5 separate regions of the Homo sapiens genome follow, and all the other regions are reported to be linked to region 4. The links are microRNA targets in miRTarBase. Many come from high-throughput screens and were not tested one by one. Region 4 holds a microRNA gene; each other region holds the end of a gene's coding sequence.

Region 1 (6,665 bases), not on the chromosome of region 4:
TTGAATAGATACTGAAAAGGCGTTTGATAAAATTCAGTATCCTTCATGATAAAAACTCTCAACAAACTGGTGATAGAAGGAACATAACTCAAAACATTAAAAGCCATTTAAGATAAACCCACACCTAACATCACATATTGAACACGGAAAAATAAAAAATTAAAAGCCTTTCTTTTTTTTTTTTCCTTTGAGACAGGGTCTCACTCTGTCGCCTAAGCTGGAGTGCAATGGTGTGATCTCGGCTCACTGCAACCTCTGCCTCCCAGGCTCAAGCAATTCTCGTGCCTCAACCTCCCAAGTAGCTAGGATTACAGGCATGTGCCACCATGTCCAGAGAATTTTTGTATTTTTAGTAGAGACAGGGTTTCACCATGTTGGCCAGGGTGGTCTCAAACTCCTGACCTAGTGGTCCACCTGCCTCGGCCTCCCGAAGTGCTGGGATTACTAGCGTTAGCCACTGCACCTGGCCAAAAATTAAAAGATGTGGAAAAAGACAACAATGCCCACTTTCACCACTTCTATTCAACGTAGAACTGGAAGTTCAATCCAGAGCAATTCAATGAGAGAAAAAAAGGGCATCCAAATTGGAAAGAAAGAAGTCAAATCATCCTTGTTTGCAGAAGACATGTTTTATATTTAGAAAAACCTAAAGATTCCACCAAAAAAATTGTTAGAACTGATAAATGAATTCAGTAAAGTTGCAGAATGTAAAATCAAAATAAAAAAACAGTAGTATTTTTATATGCCAGCAGTGAACAATTTGAAAAAGAAATCAAGAAAGCAATCCCATTTACAATAACTACAAAAAAATTTAGGAATAAATTTAACCAAAGAAGTGAAAGGTCTCTATAATGAAAGCTATGAAATGTTAATGAAATAAATTGAAGAGGACAGAAAAAAATGGAAAAATATTCCATGTTCATGGGTTGGAAGACTTGATATTGTTAAAATGACCATACTACCCAAAGTGTTCCACAGATTCAATGCAATCCTTATCAAAATACCAATGACATTTTTTCACAAAAATAGAAAAAAAATGCTAAAATTCACATGGAACCACACACACACAAAAACTCCTGAATAGTCAAAGCAATCGTTGGCAAAAAGAATAAAAGCTGGAGGCATCACACTACCTTCCTTCAAAGTATACCGCAAAACTATAGTAACCAAAACAGCATGGTATTGGCATAAAAACAAACACATAGACCAATGGAACAGAATAGAGAACCCAGAAATAAATCCATGTATTTACAGCTAACTCACTTTTGACAAAGGCACCAAGAACTTACACTGGGGAAAGAACAGTCTCTTCAACAAATAGTGCTGAGAAAACTGGTTATCTACATGCAGAAGAATGAGACCAGACCCCTATTTCTCACCCTACACAAAATTCAAATGTATTAAAGACTTAAATATAAGACCTGAAACTATGAAACTACTAGAAGAAAACACTGGGAAAATGCTTCAGGAAACTGGTGTGGGCAAATATTTTTGGGGTAAAACCTCAAAAGCACAGACAACCAAAGTAAAAATTGACAAATAGGATTACATCAAGCTAAAAAGTTTCTGCACAACAAAGGAAACAATCAACAGCCACTATGCAAAACAGTTTGGAGGTTCCTCAGAAAACTACCATATGACTCAGCAATCCTACTGCTGGGTATATATCCAAAAGAAAGAAAATCAGTATATCAAAGAGATGTCTGCATGTTCATATTTATTGCAGCACTATTCACAATAGCCAAGATACAGAATTAACCCAAGAGTCCATCAACAGATGGATAAAGAAAATGTGCTATATATACACGATGAAATATTATTCAGCCATGACAATGGCTGAATAATGAATAAAATCCTGTCAATTGCAGCAACATCATAGAATTGGAGGATATTAAGTGATATAAGCCAGGCACAGAAAGACAAATATCATCAAGATGAATCATGTTCTCAGTCATATGTGGGAGCTATAAAAATTGATCTCATGGAGGTAGTAAATACAATGGTGGTTACCAGAGGCTGGAAAGGGTAGCAGGCAGGGAGGGATGAAGAGGGATTGATTACTGGGTACAAAAATACAGTTAGATAAAATGAATAAGTTCTAATATTTGGTAGCACAATAAGGTGACTATAGTTAACAACAATTTATTATATGTTTTAAAAGGCCTAGAAGATCTGGAATGTTCCCAATACAAAGAAATGATAAATGTTTCAGGTAATAGATATCCCAATTACCCTGATGTGGTTATTACACATTGTATGCTAATATCAAAATATCCCATATATCCCAAAAGTATGTACAACTATTATGTAACAATAAAAAAATAAAAATTAAAAAAATAAAGTATATGAGAGGATATGCATAGGCTACATGCAAATACTACACAATTTTATACAAGGGACTTGGACATCTGTGGATTTTGGTATCCACAGGGGGTCCTGGAACCATTCTTCTATGAATACTGACAGATGACTGTATATGCAGTAAGAGTCCTTAGGGTGTTGCTTTTAAGTCAACTACCAATAGCAAATTATAGAAGGGTTACCACTCTGTTTTTTTTTAATCACATTATTTGATTGGTAGTTTGACATTTAGATAAGTTGCGTGAAGGTTTGTAGAAAGATATAATAGGACTTTAAGATAAATCAAACAAGCAATTTCAGTATATAGAAAATTTAATATGAAATCACTTAAAATATTTCAACATTAAGAAGTCTTAATTCAGTGCCTTGGCATGAGACATTTAAAAGCATGTTTGGGTCTAATCTCAAATTAGTTCAGGGGAACAGAAATAGCTGAAAATTTATGTATATGTGTATGTATATATATATATACACACACATCTGTATATACATACATGTATATATTCAAATTATATACATATAAAGATATTTGTAGATTCAAGATATATAGGGATTATATATCTATATATATTATATGTGTGTCTATACAGATATATATATATATATATTCATCTTTCTGTGTGTGTGTGTATATATATCCACACACACATATAAAATCTATTGTTGCTTAGTGGTGGAATTCTCTAATTTTACTCATACGCATATTTTGGAAAGCTTATCTCCAAAAGGGGCACATTAATCGTACATGGAACAGAACCCTTCTCTTCTACTTTAATTAATTTCATTTTAAATTTATTTATTTCTATTCTTCCACTTTTAACTATTATAGTCTCCTTTAAAGTTGTTAATTCAGATAGGAAACTAAACTCACTTTTGTGGAATCAGAGATGATTCTGAGTTGGAAAGAACCCGAGTATGCACTTGGGCCTGTTTCCTGTCTTCAGGCAGAGAGATAAACTAAAGCTAAGAGAGATGGACTGCCTGTTCTTTGCCTAAAAGGTCACATTTCTCAACTACTGGGGTACAAACTATATTTCATGAAGTAATTTTTGTAAAATAATTTTTCTTTAGCTACAGACACAGTAAAGTAGCCATGTATAATTAAGTTTTTAGCTTGCCTCAAATATGACCTTTGTTCTTCTAGAAAAATTTCCTCCAAAATCAGTAGCAGTAGCAAGTATGGCAGAAAGAGAAATGTGGTTCTCCATGGGAGAGAGACTATTTCAAGCAGTCATATCTTTTTAGCAAAATGTTTTGTGAGTTTTTTGGGAGTGTGACACTTTTAGTGCACACTCAAAGACTTGTGTTTTCACATGTATAGAAGTTCATCTGGGGGTTTCCAAAGCCTTCCGTATTTTCACTTATGTGTGGCCTTACAAAATGTAGTTTTTAAAAAATCTATGGTTTACTAAATGTAACACGTTAAAAATCACTGAAAAATTTGCCAATGTAAATCCTAAATTTGGGTTTACTAAGTTAAAATGAAGCGTTAAGACCAAAAAAACATTGAAAATTTTATTTTCACAGGGGATTTGCATAAAAAGAACATTATTTTTGTTCTGTGTATATATAAGTATTTTTGTTTCCTTAACTTGTTTCTGTTGCCCACACACAACTAGGAGAAGATGCTTTTCTTTATTTTGGTTTGGCCAAAGATGCTAATGGTTAAATTATGAAGGACTTTGTTTTACTTATGTTAAGTGGTGAAAACTGTAGTTCTTAATCTATGAAGAATTCTCTAGGTGGCTATACAAGAAAAATACAAAAAGTTAGGAAAACATGTAAACGTAAGTTATGAGGTATTTCATAGATACAGTGCCCATACAAATTCTCTTTCCCACAATTTTCAACTGCCAGATCTCTTGCTTTAGTCTTTTTTCCTTATATTTGGAGAAACAGAAGAGTTTGACATAAAAGTCCCTTTGAGGATGTGAGGGTTGCAGTAGTTTACAGCAGGGTCAGAAAATGAAAGTAATAAAGCAATATTTACATGTTTTTGTATAAGAACAAAAATATTTCCTTAAAAAGTTGTTAAAAGTTTTTTAGTCCTATAAACACTCACTTTTATAGGGCACATGATTGTCTGTGTGACTTCTCTTTCCAGAGGAAGACTTTTTTATTTTTAAATTCTAGGAAAGCATGACTTATTCAAATTGGATTTTCCATGCTATATTTAGTTTTACAGATGTGTTTAGTTCTAAAACTGTGGTTTACTGTATTCTGGGGAGAGCATGTATATAAAAAAACCCAGGAAACCCTTACACCCAACTTAGACACAGTCAGTTTTAACACTCCATTGTGATCTCTCAATTCTTACAGCTTATTACTTCCATTAAGAAGAAATCTCTGAATTCTCTGCATCTAATTTTCAATGGCTACAGTCTGAGAAACTGACCCATTATCACTTTTTCTAAATAGCCAAGTTCTCAAAGTTTCTGAAAGCTCTTTGATCTTTTTTTTCTGGGAGCGAAATAGGTTGTTCTTCTTATATAACAAGAATCAGGAATTCCCAGCAAACAGATTTCATTACGTATAAAGCATATTCCAGAAACACGCAGATCACACATGAATATGCTCTCAGTCATCATAAACAGGCATTCACTCAAGGGGTAAACCAGTAATGAGCCAAACATACGTACTCATGCAAATGTACAATTGACAGCAAATTATTTTAGATCCTAATGTCATTTCAGTGTTAAAAATGAGCTGGGAGACAGCTCCTGTGACATTTGGTATGAAAGCTTTAGATTGCAATTTTCATGTAGAAGTAGCTTCATATCACATCTCGTGAGTTTCGTATCGCACAGCAGAGGACCATGCTGAATATCATGCCAAAGATCTGAAACAGAAGAAACACTCATCAGTGACTTTGAAACGGGTACTGATAGGTAAAAAGTTCAGCAGACTTCCTGGGTGTCTAACTCAAGTTAACAAATAATTATAACCAATAATTACCAGTCACAAATGACATTTTAGTATGTTACTTAAGGTTGGCTATGGGGTAAATAATTCTAGATTAACTGTTTAAATGTGTATTATTATTGTTAACAAGTAACAAGGCTCTGCTTTAAAAGAACCTACCCTGCTTCAGAATTATAGAACCGTTCTGAATACCTGTGAAAGACAGACACAATACTGGCTTTGGAATTTTATATTTCAGGTTAATCCTAGATCTCTTTTATATGTTTATTTTGAAAACTGTGTCCATAACCACTTGTTGTTTAGATATGCTTGTGGTCTAAATAATTTTCTATTGCTGGAAAAGCTCTGATTTTTTACAACAGTGTCCATACATCCAAAAATGGAGTATCAGCTGGGTGCAGTGGCTCATGCCTGCAATCCCAGCACTTTGGGAGGCTGTGGTGGGAGGATCGCTTGAGCTCAGGAGTTCTAGACCAGCCTGGGAAACATGGTGAAACCCTGTCACTACAAAAAATACAAAAATTAGCTGAGCATGGTGGTGTGTCCCTGCAGTCCCAGGTGCTTGGCAAGCTGAGGCGGGAGGATTATTGAGCCCAGGAGGTCGAGGCTGCAGTGAGCTGTGATTGCACCACTTCACTCCCTGGTGACAGAGACCCTGTCTCACAAAAAAAGAAAAAAAAAGTGGAGCATCACTTCATTCTCAGTCCATTTTTAAGGGCAAACGATGCTTCACTGTTTAATTCAATAGTTTTAGCAAAACATAAACTAAAGGGTTTATACTATGGTATTATTGACTTTTACCTTTTGGATAGTTCTCTGAGAAGTTAAATACTTGAGTGAAATCAATATCCACTTCCATGGTTTGAATAGAAGAATGCCAAAGAGTCTTCTTGTCCGCTATTATTTCCCCTACAATTTTGTAGAGCCCATGGAACCCTATCTGTGGGCACCATTCCATAAACTACTGTCAATGCTTATTTTAAAAAATGGGTACTATAACTTTCTGGTTCTCTCCTCAATTCCATCCTAAGTCAGACTAGGATCTGTAAGTGCTAAATTCAATAAGATATGAATGATCAGTTGTTTTGAAAAGGGAGGGGCAGAAGCAGGTAAGGGCATGGCCAGGAACAGGATTTCAAGCTTCTGGATGACAGGACTCAGTACCAGTGTGTAGCACGGGCGACACCCAATGCACTTTTAGTTAGCTGATTACATTGTGCAACTCTCACTTTACAGAGAAAAGAACTAACGAAGAAACCTGGGGGTGCCGACTCAAGATAGGCTCACTATGGGCATTTCCCCTTTATCATTGCCATAAGGTTGGATGTAATCCCTACCCATCCTGGTTTCAGTGAGACTCCTTCAGTCTCAGCCTACTGCCG
Region 2 (6,665 bases), not on the chromosome of region 4:
TCTTAAGTGTACAGGTCAGTAGTGTGTCCCACTGTTAAGCACAATGCTACGAAAATAATGGAATTCTGAGAGGCAAAGGACAACTCAGAGAATGGGGTACCCAGCTGGGCTGTGGTAAGAAGTGTGCTGTGTTATACAGAATTGAACATCATTGGAGAGGGGGCCTAGATGTCTTTCCAGACCCTCCTGAGGGTGCCAGAGGCTGGTGTAGACTTTGGCAAGTGTCTACTCCTGACATGTAAGATGATGCTTTCCTGAAAACAGAAGGGAAACTCTTCAGACCCTTCTCTAAATTCCAAGGGATTCTTTTCTTACTTGACTTAAGGATGAGCTGGAGATCTTTATCCAAAATCTCTGATCAGGTTGCCAGTGGTTACATCTTTGTAACCACACCCTGTCCTCCATGAGATCTATGGCCCAGATCAGCAACAAAGGGCAGAAATAATTCATTGCTAATGACATAAACTATTAGGACAAACTGCAAATAAAATAAACCATGCTCGCCAGCACTTTCTTACCTCCTGTTCAAAACAGTCTTTGTTTGCTGCCTCCATTGCCCTGTCTTCCAAGAGCAGTCCTGTTTGCTCAGAACTCCTGAGCAAGACTCACACAAGCCCCTCCTGCTCTCAGCTAGCCGTTCTCAGACCTGGGTCTCATTTCCCCAGCAGCTCCTGCTGGGTCTTCAGATTCCCCTGGTTTCCAATACCCATGGGTGTCCCTTGGCATGTTGCAATCTCTGGGCATTATCCCCACAGTTCTGCCATCCCTGTGCCCCTTTACCATGGAGCTCTCAGTACCAACTGTCTACAGAATGCTGTAGTTGGCCCCTATAACAAGAAGAGCTTCCTTGTTCCTACCAGTACCAATAGGTGTGAGAGTCTTTGGCCTATGTCTGTCTCATAGAGGAAAGTGGGCAAAATCTATCCAATCAAAGCTATGACAGCATCCCAAATTCTAACTTCACACCAAAAGCCAATGACTGAGAATGGATTGGCCCAATACCCTCCTTCAGAAAAACTGATTCTTAACCCAACAATCGAGTTTTCATGGCAGCTTCATTGAGGAGGATTTGGGGAGGCAAGAGGGATTTATTAACACCTCTTGAATCACTTTACACAAAGTTCATTTCACCTACAATTTCTCCTTAATTTAAATGAAGTTGAGGAGGAAGGCAGGGGACTCAATGATCCTTTCACAGGAAAATTAAGGAATAAACAAGAGCCAAATAGTGTCCCTTTTAATGGGTGCCTGAAGAGATCTTTCTCCCTGGGCCTCAAAAATTATTATGTCTGGGTTAAAAATCTGGTAGATATTGATCAAGAGCCAATCTGAGAGTGGTGAGGCTCAGAAAAAGTGTATTTTTCTTATTAAAAAAGAAAATACACATGTATATTTTCTTCACATTTTTCTAAAAGTTGCATTTAATTGCTGTAGAAACAAAAGAAGTAATTTAGAATTGAATGAAGATGAGGTAAGTATTTCAAAAACACTGAAATATTTTTCCTGTTTATAATGTTAAAATTTATAAATTTCCCTCTTATTTTGTCCCTTTGTGGTAATTCAGTGGTTCTCAGCTTTCTCAGACCCAATACCTTGCTTTTTATCACAAATATTTGGTAATACTTTTACCATTCTAAAAGGAAACTTACAGATAATTTTACCATTTCAAAATGAAATGTATATGCTTTCTACACTAATAATGTAAACATACACATTATTTTTACGTATAATGTTCTCACTGTAATATAAATGAGTAATGAAAAGAAAAGTTATGGATAACAGTATATAATTCAGTGTGTAAATGCTCAGGCATAATCACATAAAGAGACAAAATGAGTGAGTCTGATGCTGACACCTGTATGTAATATCTCCTGAATACAATAGCTACAAATATTGCTTACAGGTATGTTGTGTCATATTTTAATGTCATAAATGGTATTGTTACTTATAATGTCATTTCCAAAGTACTGAACAACTCTTGGTAAAGCTCAGAGGAAACCAAAGTAAAATCTTTCTTCAATCCATGATAGCTGCATTTCCAGAAAATTCAGAGAATTAAAGCTATACAAAAAAAAATACTACGTGTTTACGAAAACTGGGTAAAACCTGATAGCTGCTCTGATTGTTATGAGTATATGTTTCACTTCATTAATATCTAATAGAGTATTCAAATAGAGAGCAAGACCTGATACTTCTTTATTGTACAGACAATTATGTGCAAGGCAAGATGTCTATTCCTTGGCTCCCACCACCAAATGCTAATACTAGTGCTCTCTTATAATGGTGATATCCAAAAATGGCCCTAGAGGCCAATGTCACTCCCAATGTCACATGAGGTTCATTTCTGTATTGATTCAAGACAAAGAACAGGAAAACTAAAATTTTTCTATTTATTCCATAAATACTGATGAAAAAGATATTTTATATTATGAAATATTGCATTTCTATCTTTTGAGAACATTTCTAATAAGCCTGTTATTATAATATATGAAAATAACATAGTGTTATGTTAACATTATAACAGATTAATACAGAGATTAATTCTTTTGAATTGCCTGACCTCAACATATCTAAAATCTGGAAAAGAGTATGACATAATCTACAAGGTAATGAAATTCTCATGAATACTTTTAATTTAAATATTTTTCTAAATTTTTTTTACATATTTATAGGTATTATAAATTTTCTTAAAACTATCAGGGGTCTTAGTAACGGTCTTACAAATTTTATGGTTCAAAATGAGAAAGAAAAAATGTAAAAAATAAATGGGAAAAAAGGCAAGAAAGAAAAGAAATATTACTTGTTTAAAAGGATATTTAAAAGAATATATAAAACAGAAAATATATGGAAACAAGTCATGTTTGAACTATGTTGCTACTTCTGCTTCCTCAGAATTAATTTCTGTGGCTCAGTAATTTTAGTGGTCACAGAAATTCACAGAGGTATTTCTTATTCATCTGAGGAATTTGTGGATCCACAGTGATAATAAATTATGAAAAACTTTTAAATCCCGAAGATATACCTTGATGAAAAAAAAAGTTCCCTTAATTCATTCTGTTATTCTATTCATGTTACTAATCACTTCAGGTTTTCTGCAGCATTAAATATGAAACTGGATCAGATCCTGGGAAAATTTTAAGATAAAACACTGAAGACACTGGAAGTATGGGCAGGAGCAAAAAAAACCCAAAAAGCAAAAACCCACAAGCCTATGTATCAACCTAGCCAGTAACAGAAGTTCTTGAAATAAAATCAGTTTAACGTGCCACATGCCACAAGTTATTAATACAATTTTACAAAAAGTAATTCCGAATTTGGAAAGAAAATCCATATTATTTTATTATTATTACTTTAAATTTTATTTTAAGTTCAGGGGTACATGTGCAGGTTTGTTACATAGGTAAACATGTGTCATGGGAGTTTGTTGTACAGATTATTTCATCCCGAGTATTAAGCCTAGTTCCCATTAGTTATTTTTCCTATATTTTAAAGGATTATGATTTTATTGCTTTGGGGGACATTTATTTATCCACTCTTCAAATATTCAGAAAACCTTCTTCATGCAACCTAATCTCACAGAGTCTAAATTAATGGTTTTTCTATATACTTCTCAAAAGTCCTCTTTTAAAAACACAGTTTTCATTTATTTAAAAATATATAATTTTAACCTGGAAACCATCATTCTCAGCAAACTAACACAGGAACAGAAAACCAAACACCGCATGTTCTCACTTAGAAGTGGGAGTTGAACAATGAAAACACATGGACACAGGGAGGGGAACATCACACAATGGGGCCTGTCCAGGGGTGGGGGGCTAGGGGAGGGAGAGCATTAGGAGAAATACCTAATGTAGATGGGTTGACAGGTGCCGCAAACCACCATGGCACGTGTATACCTATGTAACAAACCTGCACATTCTGCACATGTACCCCAGAACTTAAGGTATAATTTAAATATATATATATATAATTTTAACGGCGGAAGGGAGCTCTAAAGATTTCAGTATAACTTTCTGTCCCCCCTAAAAATCTTAATTAACTGTGGCCCAGGACATCTAGAAATTCTCTCAAAAAACAGAAGAGAAAAAAATTTTAATCACTTCCCTTGGGAACTCATTTTAATGCCTACCAGCACATTAGTCAGGGATAGTCTCTAAATTACAGTTTCACCATTATGTAGATATGTCCAGTAAGCTTTTAAATGATTTTTGGAGCAACAGTGCAATTGGTGATAATTGAGGAAGTTGATCCCCAAGTCCTTAAACGACCTTTCACAGGACAAATCTAGAAACCCTTGTTATAACAGGAGGCCACACGTTCTTTTTCTCTTGATTTCTAGACAGATGACTTCCTACCAGAGTTATGATACCCTAGAAAAATTTTTAACTATTCTCTCCCCTTATCAGTTTTTATCAGGGCATGAGATGAATGGGACATCTAACCTGGTTAGCGAAGGAGAGTTTGTGTCTTTGGAGCTGGGTGGTGGCCAGAATTTACTTACCTAAGGTGAAGTGGGATGAAAAGAACTAAAGGTCTGAGTTCAGTCCAAAACCTAAGAGACCATGCTTCAAACAGAGGAACTTAGAATGAGCTAATGAAACTCTAAAACTCTTAAAACCTATGTTGCTTTCATGGGCCACACAGACATTCTGTACTGGAAAATAATGTAATATTGCAACTCCAGGTGGATTCAACAACACTGGTCTTTGTACGGCCATCACTCAGAGATGGGAGGGATCCCATAAGGACTACAATGAGGGCTCTTGCATTTTATAGTCCTTTTGTTTTGGGTACATCAAGGCATGGTTTTGATCAAGTAATGAAATACCATTCTTACCTCCCCTATACCCATTTTTATTCCCAATATAAAGGAAGCAAATATGAATACTGTAGTTTGTGGCTAACGGCACAAAACACAATTCCATAAGCCAATTATCTTTTGCTTAAACCAATGGCTTCCCCCAAAGACAAAGAGAAGCAAATCATAGCAGCTAATTGCTGTTACACTCAAGAAGATTTCGTTATAAAATGCAACCTTGCTGTTACAGGCATTGGAATGCGTCACAACATTCAAGTAATAGATCCTAAAGAACTGGTAGGGAAGGAAACAAACAAGGATGACCCCTATAAAAAATAGGTTTTTCAGCTGAGCCCAGAACTCCTGGTGGGATAGTAAAGAGTGGCGTAGCTTCTGCACCATCAACATAATGATGAAGACCTGGAAGACCAACAGAATCACAGCAACGGCTATGACAAAAATGACTATCATATAGTTGATGATTTTCACATATGTGTAAGCAAGCTCTTTGTGAAATTTAAAACAGTGCTCCTCATTGTATTCCTCATGGATTCCATACCGGGAGACAACCAGGGGTACCACAATGACAATCACCAGCGTCCACATGCCAGCACTGGCAGCCACAGCATGCAGTTTTCTGTAGAATTCCACTTTGTCTTTGCACTTGAAGAAGATGAGGTATCTGGTGACCAGGATCACCACATAGAATAGGAACGTGAGGTACATGTGGATGTGCAGCATGGCACTCACAAATTTGCAGAAGGGCAGCCCAAACATCCAAGTCTTCTTGATGAGGTAGGTCAAGCGAAATGGCACTGTCAGCAGAAAAACGCTGTGGACCACCACCAAGTTAATGACCGCCATGGTGGTCACTGACCGGGTGTTCATTTTCACCAGGAGGAAAAGAATGGAAATGACACCCACCAGCCCGCCAATAAGCACTATGAAGTAGAGGCTGATTAAGTGGGGTGTCACTATAGGATCGCAAGAGGAATTCCTGGAGGTATTGTGGCCAGGCATACTTGGGAAGTCACCTGGAGGAGAAAAAGCACCAGAGTAACTGACAAGCTTTCAGAGCTTTGTTCCTATCTCTTTTACAGCACTGACAATGTGACTTTGCCATTTATGTGCTTATATGATATAAACTTTACATGCTTTAAGAATGAAGATTATTTCCTATGAATGTTTGCATACCCTAGACCTAAAACACAGTAAGCCATTGATTCTTACTCTTTAATAGGAATAAAAATCGAATCTGAATCTTCAAGTTGCCCCCCAGAGAGATGTATGTAGATAAGACAATTTACATAAAACTTCAGGAGGATTGCAGACCATCTGGAGCTAGTACTTGGATACTAGTACTACAGTAACCCTTTAAAAAGTTGTGAGATGGATAGAAAGATCGATGGATTCATGAAGTATACAATTTTTTTTTCTTACGGGCATGATTATAATTCTCTAATTCTTTCTTACTTATTAGCAAATGACCCAAGAATATTCATACTTAATTCATTTAGAATACTGATTAATTTGACCAAAAATACCATCTAAGTCAAGAGAGCAGCAAGCAATAGGAAGGTTTACCTGAATTTCTCATTACAGTTATTTTATCTTCTAGCAGTGAGTGAGGCCTTGCTAAGCCTTCCCATGGGCCCCACTGAAATATAGCATGTCTTCCAACTCTCTCATCTCCTACTCTCAAAGGCCTTGCAAATTCGTGACAGAGCCACTGGCATTTATCCCCTGGACTCCTGAAAGATCCGCTCCACAATTACTCTCAGTCCTTTCTAATTCATTCTCCATATTCTTATTCATTGCTTGCTGTAAAAGATTTAGTAATCTTTTAATTTCACTAAGAAAGTCATGT
Region 3 (6,665 bases), not on the chromosome of region 4:
GGACTCTCTCCATCTCAACTCCCCTCAGCTTCATCATACACAAAGGATCTCTGCATGTAGTAGGCAAAAAGCTGCAGGGAGCCCCAAACGCAGCTCAAGGTGGCTTAGCTGTCACTGTTCATATGGGAATCTCAAGGACGGGCATGGGGTAGGGGGGACACTGTGAATGAGACCTGCCGGAGTCATGTAGAGAGGAGAAGGGGCGAAGCTGCCCCTAAATAAATTAGGAAAGCATTTGGGAACTAATGCTGAGTTCATTCATGAGTTCACTAATGCTGAGACAGAAGCTATACCTATCACAGTCCAAACTCCAGTGCTCTCAGTTTTTGCTTTTTTAATACCTGCTATACTTTCACATTGGCATTATCACACAAATAACGTTTACTTCAAAGTAGTTCAGTCACCCAATTATAAAAACACTTGGACCAATTTAACCAGACTGTATGGGATATCACATATGAAATGTGTCTCTTTGGAATCATGGCCATTAAGGGGAAAAATAAAAATTAGCTATCTTTATATAGCATCCAGGGAGAGGAATCAGAACAAGGTAAGTCACCTGAGACAGCTCCCTGTGCTTTCAATTTCCATCCTCCAGCTGGATAAACAAGTACCAAGAGTACACTGAAACTGTTGCATCACTTTGCAGAAATAAAGCACCAAAAGGGATCTCCCAACACTCTAACTCCTTACATTCCTTATTTTAAAGTTGGAGTCTAAAACATGACCAACCATTAATTATCCACTCTACCTCTGCAAGTCCTCGACCCATGGAACATTCTTTCTTTCTTTATATCTTAGCTCTTGAACAGCCAAGAACATCATGTAACACATTGATAAAGACATATCCAAGAAAAACTATTTCATGAGCACCTATGTGACAGGCATTCTTCTGGATGCTAGAGACAGCAGTGAACACATTTCCCACAAGAACTTAACTCCACCTCTACTAAGTTATAGCTGTTGATTATCGAATATAGCCATGATTATAAGCTGTTTTTTCCACTCAATTTCACTATTACTTTTTATTGACTTCAACTTACTTAAACATTGTTCAACATAATTCTTCCATTACTTCCTAGGAATTTGTCAGTAACTCTGTCCTATTTCCTGTGAAGTAGTATCCTTAACATTGGTCCTTTGTTTTTCATATGTGGCTTTTTTTTTTCTTTTTATTGAGACAGAGTTTTGCTCTTGTTGCCCAGGCTGGAGTGCAATGGCACGATCTGGGCTCACTGCAACCTCCACCTCCCAGGTTCAAGCAATTCTCCTGCCTCAGCCTCCCAAGTAGCTGGGATTACAGGCATGTGCCACCATGCCCAGCTAATTTTGTATTTTTAGTAGAGACAGGGTTTCACTATGTTGGTCAGGCTGGTCTCAAACTCCTGACCTCAGGTGATCCACCTACCTCGGCCTCCCAAAGTGTTGGGATTACAGGAGTGAGGCACCGTGCCTGGCCTCATATGTGGCTTTCACTAGTAATTCAGTGATTATCCCCATCGGGTTTCCCAGTGGGATATACAATTCCTTTTGAATCATTAATTTTCTACAACTAAATACAACTAAATAAAGGGGAGATAGAAAACAATTTTTTGTTTTTTAAAAATTTTATATAGAGACAGGGTCTCGCTCTGTTGCCCAGGCTGGTTTCAAACTCCTGAGCTCAAGCAATCCTCTTGCCTTGGCCTCCCAAAGTGCTGGGATTACAGGCATGAGCCACCTCACTGGTCTGGTTTGTTTTTTTGTTTTTGTTTTCTTAAGATAGGGTCTCATTCTGTTGCCCAGGGTGTTGTACAGTGGTGCAAACACAGCTCACTACAGCCTCAATCTTCTGAGCTCAAAGGATCCTCCTGCCTCAGCCCCCTGAATAGCAGAGACCACAGGTATGCACCACCATGCCTAGCTAGTTTTTTTATTTTTTGTAGAAACAGGGTCTTGCTTTGTTCCCCAGGTTGGTCTCGAACTCCTGGGCTGAAGCAATCCTCCTGCCTCAGCCTCCCAAAGTGCTGGGATTACAGGTGTGAGCCACCAAGCCCAGCCTGGGAACAACTGTTGAGTGAAACTCTCTAAATCACAACTCTAACTGTAGTTTTTATTTTGAGAAATGGCTGGGCACAGTGGCTCAAGTCTGTAATCCCAGCACTTTGGGAGGCTGACGCAGGCAAACTGCATTAGCCCAGGAGTTCAAGACCAGCCTGGGCAACATGGCCCATCTCTAATAAAAGCACAAAAATAGCTGGGTGTGCTGGCGTGCACCTATAATCCCAGCTACTCGGGAAGCTGAGGTGGGAAGATCACTTGAGCCCAGGAGGTGGAGGTTGCAGTGAGCAGATTGTGCCACTGCACTCCAGTCAGGGTGAATGAGTGAGACCCTGTCTCCAAAAAAAGAAAAAAAAAGAAATAAAGAAAAAAGAAATAAAGTCAATTCAAATCCACAAATTACAATTTGACCCACAAGGACAACGACTATGTAGCTATAATAATTCAAAGCACAGCCTGTTATTTCTTTTGCTGTCTTCTTAATACTTAAAATATTTGCCATTTGTAAGATTACATATAGGTTTAAGTGATTGGGTGAATATAAATATTTCTGAATTTTTGCCACAGCTTAGCAAAATTTATAAACCAATGCTCGTCATCATCCAGGTAAGCTAGAAAACCAAGATTATCATTTTCTGCTTTCCCCAGGATGGTTCTTCATTATCTGCTAGTATATTTGTCTAATTCCTTTGCATGTTCATTTAACAAAGTTACTTTGCCCTCAAAGTAAATATCATAAAATACTACCCTTAATATTTACTTCTGATTACTTTACAAATGTCTAGTATTGGGCCGGGCACGGTGGCTCATGCCTATAATCCCAGCACTTTGGGAGGCCGAGGTGGGTGGATCAGCTGAGGTCAGGAGTTCGAGACCAGCCTGACCAACATGGTGAAATGCCATCTCTACTAAAAAATACAAAAATTAGCTGGGCATGGTGGCGGGCGCCTGTAATCCTAGCTACTTGGGAGGCTGAGGCAGGAAAATCGCTTGAACCTGGGAGGCATAGGTTGCAGTGAGCCGAGATTGCACCATTGCACTCCAGCCTGGGTGACAGAACAAGACTCCATCTCAAAAAAATAAAAAAATAAATAAATAAAGTCTAGTATTTTCCAATAGCAAGACTCACTATTTGGTCTCTCACATTAAATTAAGTGTACACATGGGATGCACTCACGTATTTACTCAGAACCTGCCATTCCATCCATCGCCAGAGGTCCAGGAAAAGATAAGAAAGAAAACATGCTCTGTAATGCTGCTGAATACTAGTTTTTACTGAAGACCAGGCTTCACTTAATTAAAACTGTACTTTAGAAATACCTTAGTAGTTGAGGGGACAGCAGGTGTGTGGTTAAACAAAAGGTAAAGCAAGCTTCATTGTCTAAATAAAATGACAAAATGTGATATATGTTTAACAACAAAAAAAACTTTATTGAATTACAAATTTTAAAATGGATCACTTAAAAGTGAGATTATTTTATTCTGAAACATTATTTCAAAAATGTACTTTGTTTTTGAAATAAAACAAAATCTTCAACTATGAACTGACAAAATAGAGGTGAGTTGGTACCAGTGGGCCAATTCTTAACACGGACATTTAAAAATGCTGCTTTCTGTATTACAACAAAATGATATGCAATAAGAAATTGGAAAAAGGGAGCAAAGGAGAGTGCAAAGCATGTACTGAGGTCTTTCTACGGGTGCCTGACAGAATGCAGATTCAGCATAAAATGTAGACTTTGCAACAGTGGCCTTTAAAGTATGCTAGAGCAAGTGTACCCTAGGGAACCTATGTCAAAACAATTTTTGTCTTACTCCAAACAGAAAAAATGGTACACACTTTAACAAAAGCAAAACTTAATTGTAAGATCTGTACTGTAAAGCTACTTGCTATAGCCCATATATTCAGTTTGTTCAACAATCTCACTCATGACAGAAAAAGTCAGCAAATAAGACTTGGGACAAAATTATTTTCTATCAGTCTCCACATGGAAAGACCACAGCTTTAATGAATTATACAATCCTTAAGATTAATCCTTGGTCAGTATAGATTTCCGAATCAAAATCTAGTCATGAACTGTTTACAATAGCTATACTACACTAAGATGCTAAACATTTTCTTTCCAGTATGTCTTCCTAAGAGGGGAAAAAAATAGTGGGAAGTTTTCATCTTTGCCTATGAGGGGATTTATGAAAAGCCTTCTAAACTACAACAGTGTTCTTCTGCAAAACTAAAACACATTATAAAGTCAAACAGGTAAATTAACAGGAAAACCAAACTGATCTCAATAAAGTCTTGTTTCCAAAAATCTATTAAGAACAAGTAATATACATGTACAAGAAATTACAAGAAATGATGATCACGGTTAGTTACAGATGCAAAATAATATCTAATATTCCAAGCTTGTGAACATAATAATTAAAATCAAATTCATAAGCTACCTCAAAATTATGTACATTTTAGATAAGCTGGTCAAGTATTATTTGAATACACACCATATTTGGTAAACCTAAAATTATATTACCTTTTCTCCTCCTTTAATATTTGTAGCTACATGCCAATATGGAAAAAAATGTATTTTCATTTATGTATTAATAACAGAGAGTAACAGAATTTCTACTGTGTATGTTTCACAGTGTAAAAGAAAAAAAGTTAAGGTATATTTTCCTTTAAGAAAGAAGAAATATTGCCAAGAGTTTAATTAATATCAACTTACTTATAAAAACAGAAAAAATATGTTTTGAAACAGGTACCATAAAATTATTATATGGTCTCCCTACTGATCTGAAACTACAGAAGGCATTTAAGGAAGGGATGTTAGGTCAAAAACAAAGTCTAACCCAAGTTGCTTTAAAAATTTGATTTGCAGGAAAACTAGTTGCTTGGCCTAGTTTAAAGCTAGTTACAAAATCCGTTTTCTTAATGGTCCAGATATTTTGCCAATTCTTCCAACTCAACAGAACTGTCAAAAAAGAAAAAATATTTTGTAAGACCTTTAAATACCAATAAGGTACATTCCCCATTTAATACAGCATACACCTGATATTGCTTTTAAAAAAGATGCATTTTTGAAAAAGATGCTGTATTTTTCACACATAATAATCACCTATCTTAAGTGCCTGACTTTCCCAACTTAGAACTACTAGGAACATACAACTAAAGAACTTGTATAAAACAATTTCAGCATTTTTATTAAATACCTCTTTATAATGTTTTTAAGGTTAAAAAAAAAAAAATAACAATTCCAAAATTGAACTTCTAAAATATGCCACTCTAGGCATCAGCTTTCTATCCTAAAATTGAACTTTCTTAAATTCAATTAAGTACTATGTCAAAACTTGTGTCACAAAGTGCATGTATTCAAAGCAAACTGCACTGTACACCTCATCACCATAATAAAAATGATCCATCAGCTGGGCACGGTGGCTCACACCTGTAATCTCAGCACTTTGGGAGGCCGAGATGGGCAGATCATGAGGTCAGGAGATCAAGACCATCCTGGCCAACGTGGTGAAACCCCGTCTCTACTAAAATACAAAAAATTAGCCAGGCATGGTGGTCCCAGGTACTCGGAAGGCTGAGACAGGGGAATCTCTTGAACCCGGGGCCACAGAACAAGACTCCATCTCAAACAACAACAACAACAAAAAAGATCCATCATGCAAAACAAATCCAAGAGAACAGGCCAAATTTTCTCAACACGATTGAAAAAGAAGGTGAATGTCCCTCTCCTAGACCAATGACAACTTCTGCAACCTGAGATGGGTAGGAAATACTGTTTCAAACCATGAAGACACTTTCAGTAGCAGTAATCTTTCCAGCTCAGAACTAAATCTTTGTACGTAATAAGGGTACTGGGCCGGCCACGGTGGCTCACGCCTGTAATCCCAGCACTTTCGGAGGCCAAGGCAGGCAGATAACCTGAGGTCAGGAGTTCAAGAGCAGCCTGGCCAACATGGTGAAACGCCATCTCTACTAAAAATACAAAAATTAGCTGGGCATGGTGGCACATTCCTGTAATCCCAGCTACTTGGGAGGCTGAGGCAGGAGAATCGCTTGAACCTGGGAGGCGAAGGTTGCAGTGAGCTGAGATAGCGCCACTGCACTCCAGCCTGGGCAACACAGTGAGGATCTATCTCAAAAAAATTAATGAATAAATAAAACAAAATAGGTACTGGCCCCAACCCCTTAAAGTGGAGTTGAAGAAGCCAAATGGATATCTTCGACATGGTTTGGGACTCTGGCCCAAATGGCTTCTAGTTCATTTCTGATTTTCAGAAAGTGCTTTAAGCTAAGTGAATAATTCAAAATGAGCATTAAACTGAAAAGTCTATGTAAGTATAAATGAAAAAAAAAAGAATCTTGTACAAACTTCAGAAAAACTAATAAAAATAGCCAGCATTTTTAGAACACCAACAATTATCAGGCACACTAAATATATTATCTCTACTCTTCATCACAATCCGAAATGTAGGTACTATTTACATTTAATACATAAGAACAATATAGTTCAGTAATGGGAAGTGGCAAAGGAGTTCAAAATCAGTTTGTATGATTCCAAAGACTAAACTCCTACCACGTAAGCCTCCCAAACTCACACCCTTAACATCCTCATCTATAATAA
Region 4 (5,000 bases):
CTGTGGGCCTGAGAAGTAGGAGCACAGAGGCTCCCACATTTATCTTCCACTCTCATCAACCCTCGGCCTTCCTCTGCCAAGTCTCTTGAGCCATTTGGGCAGAGATTTCTGGTGATCACTGGAGAGGCATCATGAAAACTACTGGTCAAATGGGCAAAACAAACCTATGGTGATAAAAGTCAGAAAAGTTACTATCTTGGTGATAGTCTAGGGGGTTATTGGCTGTAAAAGGCAAGAGGGAACCTTCTAGGGGTGTTGGAAATCCTCCATTTCTTCATCTGGCTTGTGGTTGCAAGGCACACGCACATACAAAATCATCATCAAGCTGTATATTTTGATCTGTGCAATCTACTATCCACAATTATACCTCCATAAACAATATTACTGTCCAAAATGTTGCAGGCAGTTTATCTACCTCTTATAGCATGCCTGACCCACTTTATTCTGGAGACACTGAAAGTTCTAAGTATCTGTAGCCATTACACATCTTTATCTTCCTCCACAAGTGTGTTTATACCCACAGGTTATATTTATATCTGCAGCCACATCTATATATTTAAATCTGGAGAGGAGAGGAAAGTGTTATATGTATGTGTCTATATATAGGGCAGTTTACTTCTTTCAAAGAACAAGAGGATCCTAGCACTGGTATTTTTTTTTTTTTTTTTTTTTGAGCAGGACATTCATTCACACACACACACACATACAAGCACGCATATGCACACATGAACACTAAGTCTGCGTGCCTTTGTCTCTGTTCCAGGATGAGACGCTAAGACTGACCTTGATGATGATCTCAGGGATGGTTAGCACGGTGGACTTTTGCTTGGCCAGAACATCCCTGGTCTCATTGATGCGAGCTGTGACAAAGAAGTGCAGGGACGCTTGTTCCAGCAGCTGACCCATGTACTCGCCGGCTTGGATCAGCACCGCCTCTTTCTTGACTAGTAGGAGAAAACACACACAGGCCTGGCATCAAGACTTGAGACAGGGTCTGCTTTACTTTTCTCCAAGTTTCCCTACCCCTCCCACATTAGCCTGGAAGCCACCAGGAACACAGCAAAGGTAAGGGGCAAGTGGAACAAAGAGTCAATTGGGGATAAGCTGTCCTGCTTCTTAGGTAAAGAATGTGCTGGAAATTTAATATTCATTGAAGTCTCACTGGAGAAAATGTGTCAAACCTTCCAAACAGTTCTTTTGCTGTTGTAAAAGAAATGCCATGGAAAAGATGTGATTTTCATGGCAAAGAAGGACCAATGGGTTTTAATGGTGGCTTTGATTTGGGCCGGGATCATCCCAAAATGGAACATGTGGGGTGCTGAAGTCCAAGGCCCCCATTCCACATAGGATCCCTTGTCAAATAAGAAGTGTCTCACCTAGGCCATGGGCCACACTCAGACTAAATTGTCAACTACCTACACATTTTCTCTGTAGCATTCCACATTTTCTCTCCAATCTGATATGATTTTTCTATTTAAGAGAAGGAAGCTGTTGAAACCAGTTTCTACCAAAGGCATTCAACTATCTCCGAACCTCTGTTTGTGATTTAGAAGACCTCTGTGCCAAACAATTGTTTTCTCAATGGAAACCAGTCACTGATGTCAGATTTCTAGGTCCTGGGGACAAGCCAATGAGAATGGCATTTGGAAGATGGAGAGTGGTCCTGGCTCCCCTCCAATTACCATCTGGGCTGAGGATGGTGAGTTCTATCTTGTGGCTCTGGCTCACTTTCTCTCTAACTCCCATTTCCCACTGTCCAGGATTCTAGAGAGCAATGGGCAGTTTTTCTGTAGGCTGAGCCCAGGTGTGCACCCACTGCTACCTGGTTGGAGCCAGATGCCTGTATGTGCCGACAGCTGGCAGACTCCGCAGGTGAATGGGTGACTCATTCCTCCATCCCCAGCCACAGAGAACAGACTCTATGAACCTTCACAGAACTGAATGTCTTTACTGCTTTCCTTCTCAGTTTCTGGCTTTTGCCAAAGACTTCCCCTTCCTGTGGAAGTTATTGAAGGAAACAGCTTCATGGCCAACAGTTTGAGCACAGAGGGTAATTCATTTTAGCCTGCTGTACTGAACAGCAGTTTTGCAGCAGGGTGGGGTGCCTGTGGATGGGCATGCACCAGAGCAGAGGGCAGGGCCCCTGACTCCCCACTGGCTCGAAGGTGTGGGTGCATTGAGCCATGCCCATCATCTGTGGAGGAACTCTCACACCTGCGATGGATCTGCAGCAGCTTGCTCTGGACCTTGAAGACCAAGAGGCTGGGAAAGCCTCTGTCTTGGGCAGCACTTCTATTTGGAAGTCTCTTTACAGATGCGTAAGTGCTGTGCCTTGCTTCCAGGACTTCTGATTGAAGAGTTCTCAGTCATGGCTCTATATCACAATCACCTGGGGACCCTTAAAGACCTACCAAGCTGGCTCTCATTCCAGGCCAATTAAATCAGAGCCTTGGAGGACCTAGACATCTGTATTTTTAACAGCTCTGCAGCTGACTCTGATGTGCAGCCAGGGTTGAGAAGGGCCACTCCAACAACCAGGGGCATCCCTGTAGAATCAGCCCTGCAGACAGCCTGGGTTCCAGTGGAAGGGATGGCTTTCCAGTCCAGGTCTTTGCTGTTCCTCCTGCGGTCTGCACACCAGCAGCACCATCATCACCTGGGAGCTTGTTACAGATGCAGATTCTCTGACTTCTTACTGCACCAGTGAAGTCAGGATCTGCATTTGAATAAGACCCCAGACAATGCCTATTGAAGTGTGAGATACTCTGAGAGACAGGAGGTTCTAACAGCAGAAGGGGTAAGTTAGGGCAGAGTTAGGGTGGACTGAGAACTACCTGGGTTTTAAATTGAAAGGCCTGCATCCTGAGAACCCCATCAATCCCTGGAAAACTAGAAAGGTTGGTCATCCTAGACTAGTAGTTGTCAATAGGAGGCAATGTTATCCCCAGGGGACATTTGGCAATGTCTGGAGAACTTTTTGATTGTCACAACTGGGGTGGAGGGTGGGTTACTACTGGAATCTGGTGGATAGGGGCCAAAAATGCAGTTAAACATCCTACAATGCACAGGATAGTCCCACAACAAAGTATCCAGCCCATAATGTCAATGGTGCTGAAACCAAGAAACCCCGCATAGGGCAGGTGGATTATTAGAATGTATTGGCCTATTTTGGGCAAGCGCTAAAGAGCTAGCTTTGTTGGCTTGATTCCTGGGGCAGAGCTATTCCATTTAGAGCTGACTCTTTAAAGCTATGACCTTGCCTTGACCTTGGCCCCCAGGTCCTGCCTTTTGGAATGACCCGCTCTCGTATTGCTGTCTTTGGACCTAAGCCTGGACCCTGCTTCCTCCATGGCTCCCCTTGCAATTAATTGTTTAGATGAGTGAGGTTCTGGCCCTCTATTGGTTACAGCCTCAGATGAGCACAAATGGTCAGTTTATCGTGTCTCTAGATAGAATGGATGAAGTGGCAAGGTGGAAGGCCTCGAAGAAGATGCCTTTTGCCTCTAGCTGTTTCCAGTAATAACAATAATAAAATGACTTCTTCTGACTATTTCTAGAGGACTATGTTTGACCACTGGATTTCTTTTGGCTAATGGGATATGATTTCTTTACAGAGGCTCTTGCTACCTTTATAATCTCAGTATCAGGACCCCTTTCTTCTCTGAGGTAGAACACTCCCTAAATCATAGCACTAAAGAAACCAGGCTGTGCTTCAGAGCCCAAGAGAACAGTGCTTCTGAAATAGTATGTTATGTAAGTGCTGTGTTTTGCCACTGCACAAGAAATTGTTCTAGATAAAGTTTATTAAACGTGGCAGGAGAAGGAGGAATAGGTTTTCGCTCTATGAGCGGTAGGGCTGGGATGCTGCCAATATCATTTACGGTGTCTGGGGAAAGCCAAGGGAGACACAGACTGGAGCTGCCTCATCTCTTTTCCAAAAAGCAAAGAAAACTAAATATAGCCAAGTGGAAATGATAGCACCTTTGAAGGTACGGAGAGGTTTAAGTTATTCAGATCTCCCAAGCTGATTCCAGCACACACATTCCCTTTAATCATCAATCTGGAAAGTATGCCTCCCATTCTACTTGGAAAGCTTTCTTTGCAGCAGAGGCATCTAAGAATGCTTGATCAAGGCCTGAAGTTATGTGGCTTTTTGCAATACACTGCAATTTAATTTATATTTCAATATACAATTTATTGGTCACAGTTAATACCACCTGCCTGCAGGGCAAAGGAACAAAGAGTCTCCAGTTCCCTTCAAGTTATTCAGGACAACCTGGGGCTGGCCAAGCGAATGGGAGATGTGTTCCTATGGACTCAGGCATAGGTTTGGTCAGCTGTCCCTAGGTCGATGACTGAGAGAATGATATCATTCTACTCACCCATACAAGCTCATTCTTTAATTGGATTAAAGAGGGAAGGGGAAGGAGATTATGAGACAGGACACTTGTGAGGTGGGAAAAGGGCTGGCATTTGGTTCTTTGTCTAAGGATCTGTGCTAGACTCCAGGTAATGGGAGCACAAGGAAGGGACCTGGCCCACTTGGGGCCAAGTTTACCCTGAACTGGCTCACTGTCACTGCTATTATCTGTCTACTCTATTATCTGCTTTGCCTCTCATTGCTGTGTGGGGGCTTGAACACATCGACTCATCTCTCGAGCTTCAGTTTCCCCAAATGTAAACATGTTGGAAGTTACCATTTACTAAGATTCTACCATGTGGCACACATTTCACATTCATCACTCATTTGGCTTCCTCCATACCTTCCTTCTCTCACACCACATATCCAGTCTCTCAGCCAATCAGGCGGGCTCCACCTTCAGCACATGCCCAGATCGGACTGGTTCTCGCTGCTTCCATCACTGCTATCAACCCCTTTCAGTGGAGTGATTGCAGAAGCATCCTACCAGTCTCTAACCTTCCGCCCTACTTCCTCTTTAGTCTCTTCTCAACACAGCAGCCAGTGGTCTTTTCAAAACCTAAGTTAGATTATGCCACAT
Region 5 (6,665 bases), not on the chromosome of region 4:
CGGAGTCAGGCTGGAGTGCAGTGGTGTGATCTCGGCTCACTGCAACCTCGCCTTCCGGGTTCAAGCGATTCTCCTGCCTCAGCCTCCAGAGTAGCTGGTATTATGGATGCGCGCCACCACACTGGCTAATTTTTTATTTTTAGTAGAGGTGGGGTTTCACCATGTTGGTCAGGCTGGTCTCGAACTCCTGACCTCAGGTGACCCACCCGCCCTCGGCCCCCCAAAGTGCTGGGATTACAAGCGTAAGCCACCGCGCCCTGCCTTTTTTTCCCTTTAAAATGTGAAGAGCAAAGTCCTCAGAGGCCAGAGAGAGGTGTAGGAACTGTGCTAGTGTAAGGCAGTGCCTGCTACAGTGGGTCCAGATGAAATACTGGGAGGTAGGAAGAAAATCTGGATTTCATATCATCCATTTTTAAATGAAAAATTAAGCTTTAATAGTGTTAAATGCGCCACAGAGAACAGTGTCTATGTCACTCTTACAAGAGATGCACAAAACCAAGGTGTACAGCCTTCAAGTGTGTTCTCAAAGGAGGGTGCATGCCTTAAAAATTGTGGAGACCACTGCTCTGTCATCTGTGATTCCCCTGAAAACCTCTGGGTACATGAAGCCCTCCCCAAGGGGAATCTGGACACCCAGCACATTCTGCCCACAGGGAGATCTTCAGGGCTCGTGAATTCTGATTCCGCCCAGCAGTCACTCTCCAGCCCTTCGGTATCCACGAAGTTGGTGGGGTGCTGAGGTGATGCTTCAGACTCAGTGTGGCCCACATCGACTTTATAACTTAATATGGCAAAATGATTTGTACAGTGATGTATAAGATGAAGTGTGGTCATGAGACAAGACCCCCAGCTCAGAGTCGAGCCAGGCCCACCAAGAGGCCAGCTCCACACCCTGGGTGATGGCCAGAATGGCTGGGAGTCATGTGTCTGTCTGTGGTCACAAAGGCCTGAGCCAACCCTGTGTTTGAGAAGTTGAGACCTGTTTGTTCCCAAACAGCAACCCCTAGACCCGCATTCCCAGTGCATATGGACAGGCCATACCACGCAGAAGCCAGCCCTTCCCTGAAGCAGCATTCAACACACAGGCCTGGCCCTCGTCCTCCCGACTCCCCCTTGGTGCCCCAGTTGACTGTGCACCTTTGAGCAGGGCCGCCAGGGGTGAGGCTTTGACCCAGACAGAAGGGCCTCGGTGTCAGGCATTGGAATTGCGTGATTGCCTTCTCTCGGTCTTTATTTCCTATTAGAAATATTTCCACGTTTTTTCATGGTTGCGAAGCAGTGCTCCGCTGGTTGTGCAGCGATGGAGAGACCCAAGCCAGAGGAGAAGCGGTTTCTCCTGGAAGAGCCCATGCCCTTCTTTTACCTCAAGTGTTGTAAAATTCGCTACTGCAATTTAGAGGGGCCACCTATCAACTCATCAGTGTTCAAAGAATATGCTGGGAGCATGGGTGAGAGCTGTGGTGGGCTGTGGCTGGCCATCCTCCTGCTGCTGGCCTCCATTGCAGCCGGCCTCAGCCTGTCTTGAGCCACGGGACTGCCACAGACTGAGCCTTCCGGAGCATGGACTCGCTCCAGACCGTTGTCACCTGTTGCATTAAACTTGTTTTCTGTTGATTACCTCTTGGTTTGACTTCCCAGGGTCTTGGGATGGGAGAGTGGGGATCAGGTGCAGTTGGCTCTTAACCCTCAAGGGTTCTTTAACTCACATTCAGAGGAAGTCCAGATCTCCTGAGTAGTGATTTTGGTGACAAGTTTTTCTCTTTGAAATCAAACCTTGTAACTCATTTATTGCTGATGGCCACTCTTTTCCTTGACTCCCCTCTGCCTCTGAGGGCTTCAGTATTGATGGGGAGGGAGGCCTAAGTACCACTCATGGAGAGTATGTGCTGAGATGCTTCCGACCTTTCAGGTGACGCAGGAACACTGGGGGAGTCTGAATGATTGGGGTGAAGACATCCCTGGAGTGAAGGACTCCTCAGCATGGGGGGCAGTGGGGCACACGTTAGGGCTGCCCCCATTCCAGTGGTGGAGGCGCTGTGGATGGCTGCTTTTCCTCAACCTTTCCTACCAGATTCCAGGAGGCAGAAGATAACTAATTGTGTTGAAGAAACTTAGACTTCACCCACCAGCTGGCACAGGTGCACAGATTCATAAATTCCCACACGTGTGTGTTCAACATCTGAAACTTAGGCCAAGTAGAGAGCATCAGGGTAAATGGCGTTCATTTCTCTGTTAAGATGCAGCCATCCATGGGGAGCTGAGAAATCAGACTCAAAGTTCCACCAAAAACAAATACAAGGGGACTTCAAAAGTTCACGAAAAAATTGAATTAAAAGATAAAAATTAAAAAATGTTTTATTTCTCAGCATGAGCTCCATCAAGGTCGAGACGCTTCTGCAAGTAATGGTACCAGCCATTCAGTTCATCCCTAAAGAATTGGGCACCCTGGGAATTTAACCATGCCACTTCAGTCTTTGTGACGTTATTAACTGAAGAAAAGTGGGTGCCCTTTAAAGATTTTTTAAAATTATAAAACAGAAGTAACCAAATCAGGCCTGGAAGGTGTATGCCTAGTGATTTCCCATTGAAACTCTCACAAAACTGGCCTTGTTTGATGAGAGGAATGAGCAGGAGCATTGTCATGGTGGAGAAGGGCTCTCTGGTGAAGCTTTCCGGGGTGACGATTTCCTGGGTGTTTTCCTGCTAAATCGTTGGCTGACTTTCTCTATACACTCTCATAATAAGATGTTACTGTTCTTTGGCCCTCCAGAAAGTCAATAAGCAAGATGCCTTGAGCATTCACAAAACGGTTGCCACGACCTTTGCCCTTGACATGTCTGCTTTTACTCTGATGGGACCACGCCCACCTCTAGGTAGTCATTGCTTTGCTTGTGCTTTGCCTTCAGGAGTGTACTGGTTAAGCCACATTTCATCTCCGGCTATAATTATATGAAGAAATGCTTCAGGATCTTGATTCCACTTGTTTAAAATGGCCATAGAACGCTTTTCTCTTATCTGCAGCTGAGCTGGGAGAAAGTTTTGGCACCCACCGAGTGGACAGTTTACTCAACTTTAATTTCAGTCAGAATTGTGTAAGCTGAACACCTTGGGATACCTACAGCGTTGGCTATTGTTTCTGCTGCTATTAATCAGTCCTCTTAAATTAGGGCACAAACAAGATGAATTGTTTCCTCACAGACTGATGTGGCTGGCCTGCTGCTGTGGACTTCCTCTCCAACATCATCTCTTCTCTTCTTCCAATGAGTTATCCACTTACTTAAATTGCTGATTTCTTTGAGGCATTGTCCCTATAAACTTTCAATAAATCATCAATGATTTCACCATGTTTCCAGCCAAGCTTCACCATCAATTGCATGTTTGTTCTGGTTTCAATTTTAGCAGAATTCATGTGTCTGATAGGAGCTCTGTTCAAACTGTTGTCTTATACTTCTTAGGGCCTCAAACTAGATCCTGTTCGGACGTGTTTTCACAAGTTAGTACAAGTTTATTTTGTTGCAAAACAATTTGAAATTCATGCATTCTTTTTCCCAATATGCATTTTCCATGAACATTCTAAAGATCACTCATCCTTCCTCCCCATGTTGTCTATTCAATGTCAGGGAGGATGTGACCCCACCCACTGCTCACCTTTGTCTCCCTTCTGTCCCCACCATCCTGGCCAGCCACTGCCTGGTCTAATACCAGAGGCTGCTGGGTGGGGAAGCCTGGGGAACCTTCCAGATAGAGTTTCTTCGCTATTCCTGAGGCATGGGGAAAAGGCTCATCTCAGTCACATCTGAACACTTCGAACCTGAGGCCAAAGTCCATTCTAGGGGCAGTGGGCAAGGAGGGTCCCAGCAACTCAGGACCAGATAGGACCACCAGCACCTGTCAGGCTCTGCCTGTGTGTCCATCTTTTTGCCCGTCACAGGCTGGTGTTCACATCCTGCCATTCACACCAGCACCCAGAAACAGTAGCCCCAGCTGCTTCCAATTCGCAGCCCTGGGCTTGAGTTTGGGGAGCATTACTTTCATTAAGGCAGGCAAAAGTGGGAACTTCATTCAGAAAGAGCAAGTGAGGTAGGAGGTCAGCCACATGAGAGAGTTTCCATGGCAGCCTTCCATTAGAGTCTCTTCAAATGAAGGATGTAATCTGTGATGTAAAATCATAGCAAGTCAAGAAATGTGAATACGGAAAAATTCGAAATTGGGAACTGCTGGGTCTCTGGTAACACTAGGAGCACTCCCAATTACTTGAGTAAGGGAGATAGAAAATTATTGCAGGGTTAGGAATTAGAATGGATCAAGGAGTTTGCTGTCTCCAGTGTGATAGATGCTCTTTCTAGAAAAGTCACCATGGATGGAAGACAGAACGGAGGGTAGTGTCTAGAAAAGAACAAGGTTCAACACAGATGCTCCATTATGAATGTAAAAGCTCAAGTATTGTTGACCAAAGGTTAAGAGTCAGTCTAGAGTGAGGGATTGGAGAAGCAGGAGATGGTGGCCCAGCTGGTCAGGGAAGGTCCTTACACAGGCAGAATAGTCTAGGGGACAGATCCAAGGCCGAGACACTGACAAGGAGAACAGACACTTCTATCAACATGGAAGAGCAATAGGCAAGAATACAGAGAAAGATCATGTATAGGAAGAGGCCAGGAAGTTGAAAGAATTATCCCCAGCAGTCACATTTTCTCTGTGAAACAGAATACGGTGGTGTCTGCTCAGAGAATGAGGGTACAAATAAGGTTGGACTTTGAGTGCCATGATGGAAGCTTAGGACTATCCCCAAAGGTAAGAGAGAAGGGATATCTTAGGGGACATAACATAGGATAGCCCAGCATTGTGGAGGTCATGGCTAAGACAGGGCATTAAACATTTGCAGAGACCTGCAAGAGTTCGGTAGTGGATTTTCCCCAGCAGCAGCCCATGTTTATGAGGGGGAAAGGCAGATAACAAAAGTACATCTGGGTGTGAGCTAGTTCAGAAGGTCACGATGGAAAGAGAGCAGTTGAGTGATGAACTATGGGAACTTCACTGAATGGAGAAGTCAAAGTAAGGTTAGAAATATCAGTTTTGAAGCAGTACCAAGGCCAGAGGCTATAGATGGCACAGAAACACAGAGCAGATATTGGCAATCCCATGATTAAGAGAGTAGGAAAGAAGGAGATTACAACCACTAAAAATAACCAGAACTTAGTACACAATAAATGAAGGCTCAAAACTAATGGGGAAAGAATGGATTATTGAATAAATGATATTGCTAAAATAGGCTACTGTGTTACTACTAGATCAGGTGTGTGAGTAATGGAAATCCCCACATCATAATGACTTAAACAACACAAGAATGTGTATTTCTTGCTCTTGTAAATGAAGTGAGCAAGTAAGCAGCCCAGGGCTGTGGGCCACTGCTGGAAGGACCCCTTTTCACGTGCCACCACAGCTCGGAGCACACACGGGGAAAGGGGAATGGATGGGTTCCATAAGACCAGCATTGTTTTCAGAATTATAAATTCTCCAAAATATATATGCATGTATATATCATCACCTATGTGTAGGCTTTAAAAACAAAGAAAATTGAAAATTTGAGGTTCCACTTTGAGTCCGGAAAGCAGTCTTCTAAGAATAAGTATGTCAGGGTTTCCAAGAGCTGCTGGTAGCCTGATGGCTGGACTCAGAGGATCACATGAAGACACACTGGAAAGTATCTTGAACATGGGTTTCATGTCTTGATCTCTGAAAACAGAAAACGACCCTCCTGTAATACACATGAAGTAATTCATAAATTTCCAAACAGCTAGACTTTCTGAAAGCTCTGCTTGGTCAAACAAACATGTCCAGGTCTCTGAAATGCCTTTCTATCTCAAGCACTAAAAAACTATTACTGACTAAATTCTTTTATGGTCAAACACAAAACTGATACTATAAAACAGAAACAGCACAAGAAAGGAAATTAGAAGCCATCATAATTGTGAACAAAAGATAAATAAAATATTGGCTAATCAAATCCAAGTGTATGAAAATACTAATACATTATGATAAGTACAATTTATCCCAGAAATGCGAGAACAATAAAAATCTTAGGAAAAGATACCACTCACCATAGCAAGAGAATACGCAATAATAACCAAATGATAATCAACGTTCAGTTATAACATTTTAAAAATCCTGGATACCTAAGAATAGAAGGCAATTTCAATATTTTGAAAAAAGTTACTTACCAGAAACCTCAAGCAAACACCATACTTAGTGGTGAAGCATTAGAAGTGTTCTATCTAAGTGCAAAAACATGATAAGCCTATACATTGTTACCACTGCAATAAAACATTAAAGTGGAGAATTTAGTCATGTAGTATAAGAAAAATAAAGAGTATAGAAACTTGTTCCCAACAATCTGCCCCATTAGATAGCCACCTATAACAGAAGACCTTAGACTAATTAATTTGTAAAGAACAGAAATTTATTGCTCACAGTTCTGGCGGTGGAGAAGTCAAAGATCAAGATGCCAACAGATTTGATGTCTGGTGAAGGCCTGTTCCTCATAGATGGCACCTTCTATGTGTCTCTGGAAAGACCTAAAGAGGCAAAGACATTCCCTTCAGTCTCTTTCATAAAGGCATGAATCACATTCATGAGGGGTGCCTCCCAAAGGGATGCATCTCTTTTTT

The links. Region 4 holds the annotated microRNA hsa-miR-5683 (UACAGAUGCAGAUUCUCUGACUUC, at 2,669-2,692, shown strand). A microRNA usually pairs through its seed, bases 2 to 8, with sites in the 3' UTR of a target mRNA and lowers its output. Matches are read on the target gene's strand: a 7mer-m8 pairs with bases 2 to 8, a 7mer-A1 pairs with bases 2 to 7 and ends in A, and an 8mer does both.
Region 1: the mRNA of TSPAN2 is a reported target of hsa-miR-5683. Seed matches in the 3' UTR shown: 8mer at 4,542-4,549 and 7mer-A1 at 2,947-2,953.
Region 2: miRTarBase lists GPR141 as a target of hsa-miR-5683. Seed matches in the 3' UTR shown: 7mer-m8 at 4,340-4,346 and 7mer-A1 at 3,428-3,434.
Region 3: the mRNA of TCEA1 is a reported target of hsa-miR-5683. Seed matches in the 3' UTR shown: 8mer at 4,412-4,419.
Region 5: the mRNA of LY6K is a reported target of hsa-miR-5683. The part of its 3' UTR that is shown has no 7-base or 8-base seed match.

The regions. Positions count from the first base shown.
Region 1 is chr1:115,045,356-115,052,020 of GRCh38, forward strand. TSPAN2 (tetraspanin 2) reads right to left here. Exons shown (of 8, transcript NM_005725.6): 8 at 2,656-5,200. The coding sequence ends at 5,135. Among named protein-coding and RNA genes, the nearest start is that of TSHB, 19 kb to the left of the region's middle. RefSeq lists an enhancer at 1,316-1,852.
Region 2 is chr7:37,739,547-37,746,211 of GRCh38, reverse strand. GPR141 (G protein-coupled receptor 141) reads right to left here. Exons shown (of 3, transcript NM_001381946.1): 3 at 2,377-5,832. The coding sequence starts at 5,818. The coding sequence ends at 4,901. Among named protein-coding and RNA genes, the nearest start is that of GPR141, 59 kb to the right of the region's middle.
Region 3 is chr8:53,963,110-53,969,774 of GRCh38, forward strand. TCEA1 (transcription elongation factor A1) reads right to left here. Exons shown (of 10, transcript NM_006756.4): 10 at 3,447-5,003. The coding sequence ends at 4,995. It overlaps LYPLA1-TCEA1 (LYPLA1-TCEA1 readthrough), which reads right to left. Exons shown (of 21, transcript NM_001425842.1): 21 at 3,447-5,003. The coding sequence ends at 4,995. Among named protein-coding and RNA genes, the nearest start is that of TCEA1, 56 kb to the right of the region's middle.
Region 4 is chr6:6,166,675-6,171,674 of GRCh38, forward strand. It overlaps MIR5683 (microRNA 5683), which reads left to right and starts at 2,660; the gene lies at 2,660-2,735. F13A1 (coagulation factor XIII A chain) reads right to left here. Exons shown (of 15, transcript NM_000129.4): 13 at 784-944. MIR7853 (microRNA 7853) reads right to left here and starts at 2,761; the gene lies at 2,630-2,761. RefSeq lists an enhancer at 2,311-2,976.
Region 5 is chr8:142,701,847-142,708,511 of GRCh38, forward strand. LY6K (lymphocyte antigen 6 family member K) reads left to right here. Exons shown (of 3, transcript NM_017527.4): 3 at 1,245-3,281. The coding sequence ends at 1,525. LNCOC1 (lncRNA associated with ovarian cancer 1) reads right to left here. Exons shown (of 3, transcript NR_038925.1): 2 at 6,469-6,572; 3 at 406-5,733. Among named protein-coding and RNA genes, the nearest start is that of LY6K, 5.1 kb to the left of the region's middle.